2 linked regions of the Homo sapiens genome follow. The protein of the gene in region 1 purifies or fractionates together with the protein of each later gene. This does not show direct contact. Each region holds a gene or a part of one and is shown on either strand. Other genes may lie near its edges. The genes, in order: VCPKMT and UBXN6.

Evidence for each region.
Region 2: the proteins of VCPKMT (region 1) and UBXN6 purify together in Homo sapiens (affinity purification with mass spectrometry; 4 studies listed by BioGRID and IntAct, with this or other methods). This does not show direct contact.

Annotation. Positions count from the first base shown.
Region 1 is NC_000014.9:50,107,863-50,113,601, forward strand, and holds the end of VCPKMT (protein N-lysine methyltransferase METTL21D), read right to left. Parts: intron 5,651-5,739; coding exon of another isoform or gene 5,648-5,650; exon of another isoform or gene 4,858-5,647; coding exon 4,753-4,857; exon of another isoform or gene 4,224-4,752; coding exon of another isoform or gene 4,080-4,223; exon of another isoform or gene 1,852-4,079; coding exon 1,837-1,851; 3' UTR 775-1,836; downstream 1-774. UniProt on the Homo sapiens protein: Protein N-lysine methyltransferase that specifically trimethylates 'Lys-315' of VCP/p97; this modification may decrease VCP ATPase activity.
Region 2 is NC_000019.10:4,444,290-4,447,881, reverse strand, and holds the end of UBXN6 (UBX domain-containing protein 6), read left to right. Parts: exon of another isoform or gene 1-256; coding exon 257-332; exon of another isoform or gene 333-694; coding exon of another isoform or gene 695-777; exon of another isoform or gene 778-961; coding exon 962-1,046; exon of another isoform or gene 1,047-1,162; coding exon 1,163-1,382; exon of another isoform or gene 1,383-1,468; coding exon 1,469-1,599; exon of another isoform or gene 1,600-1,684; coding exon 1,685-1,833; exon of another isoform or gene 1,834-2,258; coding exon 2,259-2,384; 3' UTR 2,385-2,876; downstream 2,877-3,592. UniProt on the Homo sapiens protein: May negatively regulate the ATPase activity of VCP, an ATP-driven segregase that associates with different cofactors to control a wide variety of cellular processes.

The sequences.
Region 1 (5,739 bases):
GGACTTCAGGCCAAAGACCCACAGATAGTGTGTGTTAAAAGAGGGCCAGGTGCAGTGGCTCATGGCTAGTAATCCCAGCACTTTCCGGGGCTAAGGAGGGTGGATCACTTGGCTCCAGGAATTTGAGACCAGTCTGGGCAACATGGTGAAACCCTGACTCTACAAAAAATACAACAAAGCTAGCCAGCTGTGGTGGCGCACCTGTAGTTCCAGCTACTAAGGAGGGTGAGGTAGGAGGATCACCCAAGCCTGGGAAGAGTAGGTTGCAGTGAGCCAAGATTGTGCCACTACTGCACTCCAGCCTGGGCAACAGAACAAAACCCTGTCTCAAAAAAAAAAAAAAAAAAAGAGAAAGCAGGAGGGCATAAAAACTGGAGGGTGAAAAGACATTTAAGGAACCTGGGTGGACTATTATAGTCAAGGTCAAACTTATTTTTACAAATTTCATGTTATAAAACAAGCTAAAAAGTGGTCATTTGTCCTAAGACATCATTAATAACAGCTAGCACTATCTGTACCTCACAAAGCACCACAGATTTAGGTTACACTGCCTTGCAAACTGCTTAATGAAATGCTAAGGACAGTATGAACAAAGTATCTTGGCGGGGGGGAAACCAGCAAAGGAAACTTTTAAGACTGAAATAAACCTGAAAGGAATGAACTGATTTCTTGACTTGTATCCTTAATGTCTCTAAATAGGGCTGCTTTTGCTCCTGTTAACTGTTTAGATGTTCACTTTCTTCAAAGGTATTTCTGAAATTCACAGTCACAAGGTCTCAAAAACAATGTTTATTTTAACACATAAAATGTACCATCTAGCACCAATGCCTATAAATACCAGAATTCCATCCGGTTACTACTCTTTGGAACAAGTATGATTAAAGTCCTTGACAGATTATTGTATATGAGCGAATGGCTTCATAACATAAAACAGAGAGACACAGAACAGAAATTCATTTGGTATATACATATAGAACTACATTTGTAGTTATTCAAAAACCTTTCACTGCTTCATGTAAACAATACCAGTATTTTTAAGCCAGATTTTCCTGGAACATATACATAAAGTGCATGAGCCACGTAAGTGCATAAGCCTGAAACTGGTCTTTCTATTCTCACTCCATGCTCAAATGAAAAATCTGTAAAGATATCTTTTGTTCCTCCAATCTTCTGATTTGTCTTCTTAGCAACTCATTACAGTACAATTTACTGATTAAATCACATAGATATGTATGGTGGAGGAAAAGAAAACTTTGGCTAATATAAGTATACAAGACAATATCTCAGTTCTTTTTAAAATTAAAAGAACATTTCAGTATTAAAGATATTTTAAAAGAAATGAAGTGGAAAATACAAATGATAAATATTGTATAATTATGTACAAAATGAAAACCTTTTAAACTCTGAAGACAAACTAAAATTTACTAGTTTGAATTTAAAACATTATTATATAATAGCAGATAGTTCTCTTCAGAAATTTATCTCTAGCTTCCTGTAAAAGGTCCAGTCAAATCATGTTGGCTGTTTTTGGCAGATTTCAGCCTCGCCTCAATACCAATTTTTATTTGAATAACTGATTCCCAACATTTAAGAAGAACTTGATGCTGAACTAAGTAACCTAAGCTGGATTCAGGGCCATTGGCAGGCAGGCAGGCAAGCAGGAATTTTTCGTATTGCAGACAGCCCCTGGTGGTCATCATCTATACATCGGATCTCTAAGGACGTGCCGGAAAAAAAAATCTGTGAACACAATCTTCCCATGCTGTATTCACATGCTCTATTCACATCTTTAGTTTACCCAGGTTGTTAGAGCCTTGGGTAAGATGATTAAAGGCTTCACGATGGAAATTTCTATAACAAAAAAAAAGGAAACTTAAAAGATTGATTTACCACAAACTATTTACTGGGTATTTAATAATGCCTAATATGCCTCATAATGCCTAGTATGCCTAGTATAACAGTGGCTACATGCAATTCAAGTGAACAACCATGCATGTTTATAGATGGTTCTTTGCTGACACCTAACAAGCAACTGAAGAAAGAACAGATGCATTGGACATTATCAAAATTAAAATATATGTGCTTCAAAAGACACAACATAGGCCGGGTGTGGTGGCTCACACCTGTAATCCCAGCACTTTGGGAGGCTGAGGTGGCAGAGCACTTGAGGCCAGGAGTTCGACACAAGCCTGGCCAACCTAGTGAAACCCAATCTCTACTAAAAATACAAAAAAATTAGCTGGGCGTCGTGGCACATGCCTTTAGTCCTAGCTACTTGGGAGGCTCACACAGGAGAATCACTTGAACCTGGGAGGCAGAGGTTGCACTGAGCCAAGATCATGCCACTGCACTCCAGACTGGGTGACAGTGCGAGACTCTGTCTCAAAAGAAAAATAAGAAAATAATAAATTAAGAAAATACAAGACACACTATTGAGAAAATGAAAAGACAACCCACAGAATGGGAGAAAATATTCACAAATAATGCATCTGTAAGTGTTTAGTATTCAGAATGTATAAGGAACTCTCACAACTCAAAGTAAAAAGACAAATAAGTCAATCTGAAAATGGGCCAAGCATTTCTTCTAAATACAGAAAAGATACCCAACATCATTAGTCATTAGAGAAATGAAAACCACAGTTTAGAGACTATCTCATACCCAGTGAGATGGGTATAATTAACAAATGTTGGTAAAAATGTGGAGAAAACTGGAACCCTTATACACTGCTAGTGAGAACGTATAATGGTATGGTAGATTAGGAACACAGTTTGGCAAGTCTTCAAAAAGTTAAACAGAGTTCCCATATAACCTTGCAGTTCTCCTCTAGGTATATACTCAAGAGGTCTGAAAACATGTTCACACAAAAATTTGTAGATGAACGTCCATAGCAGCATTATTCATCTCATCAATGGATGGATAAGGTGTGGTACAGCCACATAAAGGAATATTATTCAGCCACAAAAAGGAGTTAAGTGCTAATGTGTGCTACAATGTAGATAAGGCTCGAGAATACTGTGCTGAGTGAAAGAAGACAGTCACAAGAGGCCACACAGTATGTGACTTGTTACATATGACATGTGCAGAATAGGCAAATCCATAGAGATTAGTGGCTGCCAGCAGCTGGGGACGGGGGTAACAGGGAGTGACTGCTAATGGGTAAGAGGCTTCTCTGGGGGGTGAAATCATTAAAAATTAGAAAGTGGTAATTTACACAACTATGTGAATATACTAAAAACCACCAAATTGTACACCTTAAAAGCGTGAATTTTATGGTATGTGAGTTACATCAACTAAAAAATAAGAGTTTTTTTTTTTGGCCGAAAAAAAAAAAAAAGCCTCTATATTTAGGAAACACAAAATCTTTCTGCCTCCAAAAAATTCTACTTTTAAAACTGCACAACAGCTTCAGTTAACACTAGATCCCTTAAAGCACAAAACAGTTTTTTTTGTATCTGTGGCACCATGCCACATAAATGTTAATCTGAATAATCCCGCTGCTGCCTTTTTACTTAGATTTAGTCCTAACACCTACTTCTGTTCCCTAAGTTTTATTTGCTTTTGACTAGAATTCATATAATCAGAAAACTTTACCACAAACATAATCAAAGCAAAGATGATAGAAAAAGTGTGGGCTTATTGAATCTAGCATCCTTAATTCATAAAACTAATCATCTCCCTGCCTTACACTAGTCACATATACCAAAGGTGCTGGAAATACAAAAATAGATGAAAGGCCAGGCGCAGCAGCTCACACCTGTAATCCCAACAATTTGGGAGGCCGAGGTGGGCAGGTCACTGGAGTCCAGGAGTGCAAAATCAGCCTGGACAACATGGCAAAACCCTGTCTCAACAACAACAAAAAAAATACAAAAATTAGCTGGGCATGGTGGTGCATGCCTATGGTCCCAGGTACTCAGGAGGCTGAGGTGGGAGGATCACTTCTTGAGCCTGCAAGGCAGAGGCTGCAGCAAGCCGAGATTGCACCACTGTACTCCAGCCTGGATGACAGAGTGAGACCCTATTTCAAAAAAAAAAAAGGATGAAGTACAATTCTTCCCTCTTTCTACAGGCTCAAACCCTAGGTGTCACTGAGGCAACCTGCATAAAATGTGATTGTTATACAGGGTAAAACATGCACCAAGAAGCGGGAAAATACATAAATTCTACTTAATTGAGTGCATTTATCTTTTATGGACTCATCTGCCTTGTTGTATTTCATTTCCTGTAAACAATTTTTAATAAGGAAAAGTTCACAAAGGTAAGAGCAGGCATTTTAAAATCTCACAGAGATAAAAGAAACTTATAAATAGCTAATAACTTGTCTGAGGTAATACCCAATTATAGAGCTATACAATTTACGCCTATGGAGAAGCTGGAAAAGGCCTTTAAAAGCGAAGCCTGGCCAGGTATGGTGGCTGATGCCTGTAATCTCAGAACTTTGGGAGGCCGAAGTGGGCGGATCACTTGAGCCCAGGAGTTCGACACCAGTCTAGGCAACACGGTGAAACGTGTCTCTACTTAAAAAATACGAGAAAAAAAAAAAAAAAAAAAAAAAAAGCCTGGCTTTAGAGCAAAAACCCAAGGCAAGATAGATTAAATTATCTTGACAATGAAGTTACTGCCTGAGTCCAGTGAATCATTAGAGCTGTTTCTCCACATCAAAATCAACGCCCATACCACACATATGCCCTGAAATAGTGTCCAGCTGATGAAACCTCCTTGGAGAATGAAGAACTGAGAATGTTATTTACCGATTTTTTCTTTCTGATGTATATAATATGAATATCTTCACTTCGATACTCTTCATCATGTTTTTCCAAAGGAATTTTTTCAAAGTCAAAATCTAGCTGAAGGAGCTATAAATTTAAAAGAGACATACTTCAAATTCAATAATATGAACTGACCTGTGGGTGACAGAAGTCAGAATGCTGGTTACTTTTTTTTTGAGAGTCTCACTCTGTCACCCAGGCTGGAGTGCAGTGGTGCGATCTTGGCTCACTGCAACCTCCACCTCCCTGGGTTCAAGTGATTCTCCTGCCTCAGCCTCCTGAGTAGCTGGGATTACAGGCAAACGACACCACACCCAGCTAATTTTTGTATTTTTAGTAAAGAAAGGGTTTCACCATGTTGACCAGGCTGGTCTCGAACTCCTGACCTCATGATCTGCCCATCTCGGCCTCCCAAAGTGCTGGGATTACAGGCGTGAGCCACCGCGCCTGGTCAGTGGTTACCTTTTGAGTATTGCCTGGGAAAGGGCAGTGTGCAAACCTTCCAAGATCCTGAAAATGTCCTCTATCTTTATGTTGGTAAGTAGTTACTTGGGTGTATACATATGAAAAATTAAGCTCAGCACTTGACTGATACATATGCATTTTACATATGCTTTACCCCAATAAAAGCTGTTTAACAGTACGAAATTTTCATTATGCATCATTTCAAAAGTTCATGAACATTTTTCATATTCAAGAAAAACATGAAAATAAACAAACATTTTAGTATTTGTTACCTGAGGCAGTCATATACCTGCTTTCTCATTAAACCAAAGTAGTCCTTCCAGCAGACAAAACTGCAGGCCTATATAGATGTACCCTCAAAAGGAGTCACTCACAATGTGATAGATTTGTGCCCATATAAGGGTTTGGGTGATCACTAGGGGAAGAAGAGTGACAGATACATAAAACCCTATATACTATATTTTGCAACTTCCTGTAAGTCTTTTCTAACTATTTCAGACAAAA
Region 2 (3,592 bases), on another chromosome or scaffold:
ATTGTGCCCTTCCAGGGCTGGTGGGACGGTGAGGGGTTCCGTGGGGCTCCTGCTGGCACCAGGGGTGGGCTCCATGGGGTGTCCGAGGTGTGCCTTCCACCCGGAGATGGTCTGCTGCCCTCGCGTCACTGGGCCGCTTCTTCCCTCTGACTAGAGGCCAAGTGTGGCTGAGCTGCTGTTACCTGGAGCAGGAGGCACAGAGGGGCCGGGTGGGCAGCCTGGGCTGTGCCCCACTCACCTTCTCCACCTACCCCAGGTACCTGGACAACATCCACCTGCACCCCGAGGAGGAGAAGTACCGGAAGATCAAGCTGCAGAACAAGGTGTTTCAGGTGGGCGTGCCTTCTGGCCCCCGGGGCCCAGGCTGGGGGTGGGGGCAGCTGGCCTGCAGGAGCCGGTGGTGGCCCACACCAGGCGGTGGGCTCCCTGGAGGAGCTAGCGAGAGTTGAGCCACAAGCAGTGAAGGGTTCGGCCAGTAGAAGGTAGCAGGACAAGATGGAGAGCAAGACTTTTATGCACCGGTCACCCCAAATCAACAAATTCTGCCTCTCCTCACCTGCATCCTTTTCCTCCTCTTCAGCTGGGCTTGTTTGGGAACATGTCGACTCTGGGGAGGTTTCTCATGCAAACCAGATGTCTGGTTCTTCTGGGGGAAAGGGCAGGGACTGGGGTCCTGGGCGGTGTTAGCCTCGCATCAGGCCCCAGCAGTGTCTGGCTCCTCAGCCTCACTCTTCGTGCCTGGTTGTGACTCTTTCCTCTGTGCAGAGCTGTTGGAGACTCCACAGCCCCCACCGTAGAAAAGCAGGTTTGCATCCAGCACTGAGGCACCCCCAGGGCTGGGCCCCATCCAGGGGTCGACAGCTGCTCCCAATAGCGAGAGCCGGGCCCCTGGACTGGGTGGGGTGTGGCCAGGCCATGGAGGAAGCCAGGGGCCCCCAGTGACGCCCATCTCCACCCCCAGGAGCGCATTAACTGCCTGGAAGGGACCCACGAGTTTTTTGAGGCCATTGGGTTCCAGAAGGTGTTGCTTCCCGCCCAGGATCAGGGTAAGTGGACAGGGCCTGGCTGAGTAGGGAATGGGGACGAGGGGCCTCGGGGCAGGAGGGCCCGGCTTGGGGGTCTCTCCATTGCACAGTGACACCCATGTCCTGCCACGCTGTAGAGGACCCCGAGGAGTTCTACGTGCTGAGCGAGACCACCTTGGCCCAGCCCCAGAGCCTGGAGAGGCACAAGGAACAGCTGCTGGCTGCGGAGCCCGTGCGCGCCAAGCTGGACAGGCAGCGCCGCGTCTTCCAGCCCTCGCCCCTGGCCTCGCAGTTCGAACTGCCTGGGGACTTCTTCAACCTCACAGCAGAGGAGATCAAGCGGGAGCAGAGGCTCAGGTGGGCCTGACGTCCGCGGAGCAGAGTGGGGCGGGGCGGGGTGGAAGAACCCCGGCCAGCCCTCGTGACCTGGCCCGCGTGTGCAGGTCCGAGGCGGTGGAGCGGCTGAGCGTGCTGCGGACCAAGGCCATGCGGGAGAAGGAGGAGCAGCGGGGGCTGCGCAAGTACAACTACACGCTGCTGCGCGTGCGCCTCCCCGATGGCTGCCTCCTGCAGGGTGGGCACCAACGATGCCCGTGGAGGGCGGCTCGGGTTGGTAGGGGGCCCTGGGCCCCACCCGCTCTGACTCCCCCACTCCCCAGGCACTTTCTACGCTCGGGAGCGGCTGGGGGCGGTGTACGGGTTCGTCCGGGAGGCCCTGCAGAGCGACTGGCTGCCTTTTGAGCTGCTGGCCTCGGGAGGGCAGAAGCTGTCCGAGGACGAGAACCTGGCCTTGAACGAGTGCGGGCTGGTGAGTGTCGGCCCGCAGGAGCACCGCTGACCCGATGCCTCTGCAGGTTCTCCTGGGACCGGCACAGACACCCCCAGGAGGGAGCCTCCTTGTTCTCAGAGCAGGGGGCCTGGGCAGGTCCCTGGGTTTGAATCCTGCTTTCCCACTTACTGGCAGCAGGGCCTCGAGCAAGTTCATAACTACTCCACGCCTCAGTTTCCCCATCAAATGGGAGCGGTGACGTGCGTTAGCTAGTGCAGTAGGTTTAGGCTTAGGTCCTGGAGTCCCGGAGGGAGAGGGCAGGAGGCCTGGGTGCGAGCCACAGCCTCCACCAGCTGAGATGGCTTCCAGGCCGGGGCATCCCCGCGCCCAGGTTGCCCGCTGAGTTCCCTGCCGCGGCAAGGGCCGACTCTCGGTCTCAGAGTGACGGCCTACCCCTACCGCAGGTGCCCTCTGCCCTCCTGACCTTCTCGTGGGACATGGCTGTGCTGGAGGACATCAAGGCCGCGGGGGCCGAGCCGGACTCCATCCTGAAACCCGAGCTCCTGTCAGCCATCGAGAAGCTCTTGTGAAATAAAAGCAGGGTTGGCCTCAGCCCTGTGGGTCTGTCTCATGCTCTCCCTGTTCCTCTCCCCGCCACCCCAGGGCCTCCAAGCCACCTCTGGAAATACTTGGCTCTGCCCCATGGGCACGGGAGGGGCGCCAGCCGTGGAGCTGTGGAATTGGGCCCCGTGGCAGAGCCCCCATCCCTTGGGGGCTGTGGGGATGCGCCCAAGCCCCCGAGGGAGAGGCCTGGGGACACCAACAAATCTAAGCCCTCCCTAGCTGCTTGGTAACTGTGTCATGAAGCTGCCGGACAGACACACGTGGCATCTCCCTGGGCAGGAGAGCAGGCCTGCAGCATGGGTCCTGTTCCCGTGTGCCGTGGGTGGCAGTGGCTGCACCTGGCACTAGGGCTGCTCTGTGGATGTGGGTGACAACGGCAGGAGGGGATGCTGGCCTTCCTGCACATAGACCTGCAGTTAGTAAATCATAAGCCCAAATAAACAGGTTGTTTGAATATAGTTTCTTGGTTCTCCGTTGAAACCGTGGGACACAGGGCAGGCCCACCTGCTGAAGAGCGGATGGCTTGGGGGCTGGGTGTGGCTCCCTGTCAAGGTGGGACCATGTGGATACCTGTTCTCAGGCCAGCACCTGGCCACAAGTGCCCGATGAGCCACCCACCTGGGGAGGAAGTCCCGTGCGCTAGGGGAGGCTGTGCTGTGCCCACAAAGGCCCAGTCCCTGCAGGGGAGGCGAGTGCTGTCACAGGCCTGGCTTCCCTGTGGCCAGAGGGACAGGGTGTCCTGAGACGGCCACATCCTATTCCTGGAACCTGCAGATGCGCAACTTCACCTGGCAAGAGGGGCTTGGGTATGATGAAAGGTCTTGAGCTGGGAGATGATCCTGGGTGGTCCGGGACCCAGTGTCCTCACAAGAGGTGGCAGGAGGGTGAATCAGAGAGAGACTGGAAGAGGCTGCGCATGGCTGTGAAGGTGGAGGAAGGGACCCCGAGCTGAGGGATGCAGCGCCTCCGAGCACTGGGAAACTCTCCAGGAGGGCCTGGTCCTGCCCACAGCTTGATGTTAGCCTGGCGGGGCATGTGTGCACTCTGACCCCCAAGCTGTGAGATGGTGACTTGCTTTAAGCCACCAGGTTTGTGGTACAGCAGCCCCAGGAGACACAGGGACTCTGCCCTGCAGTGTGGAAGGCATGTGTGCCCCGGCCCCACTGCTGACTTG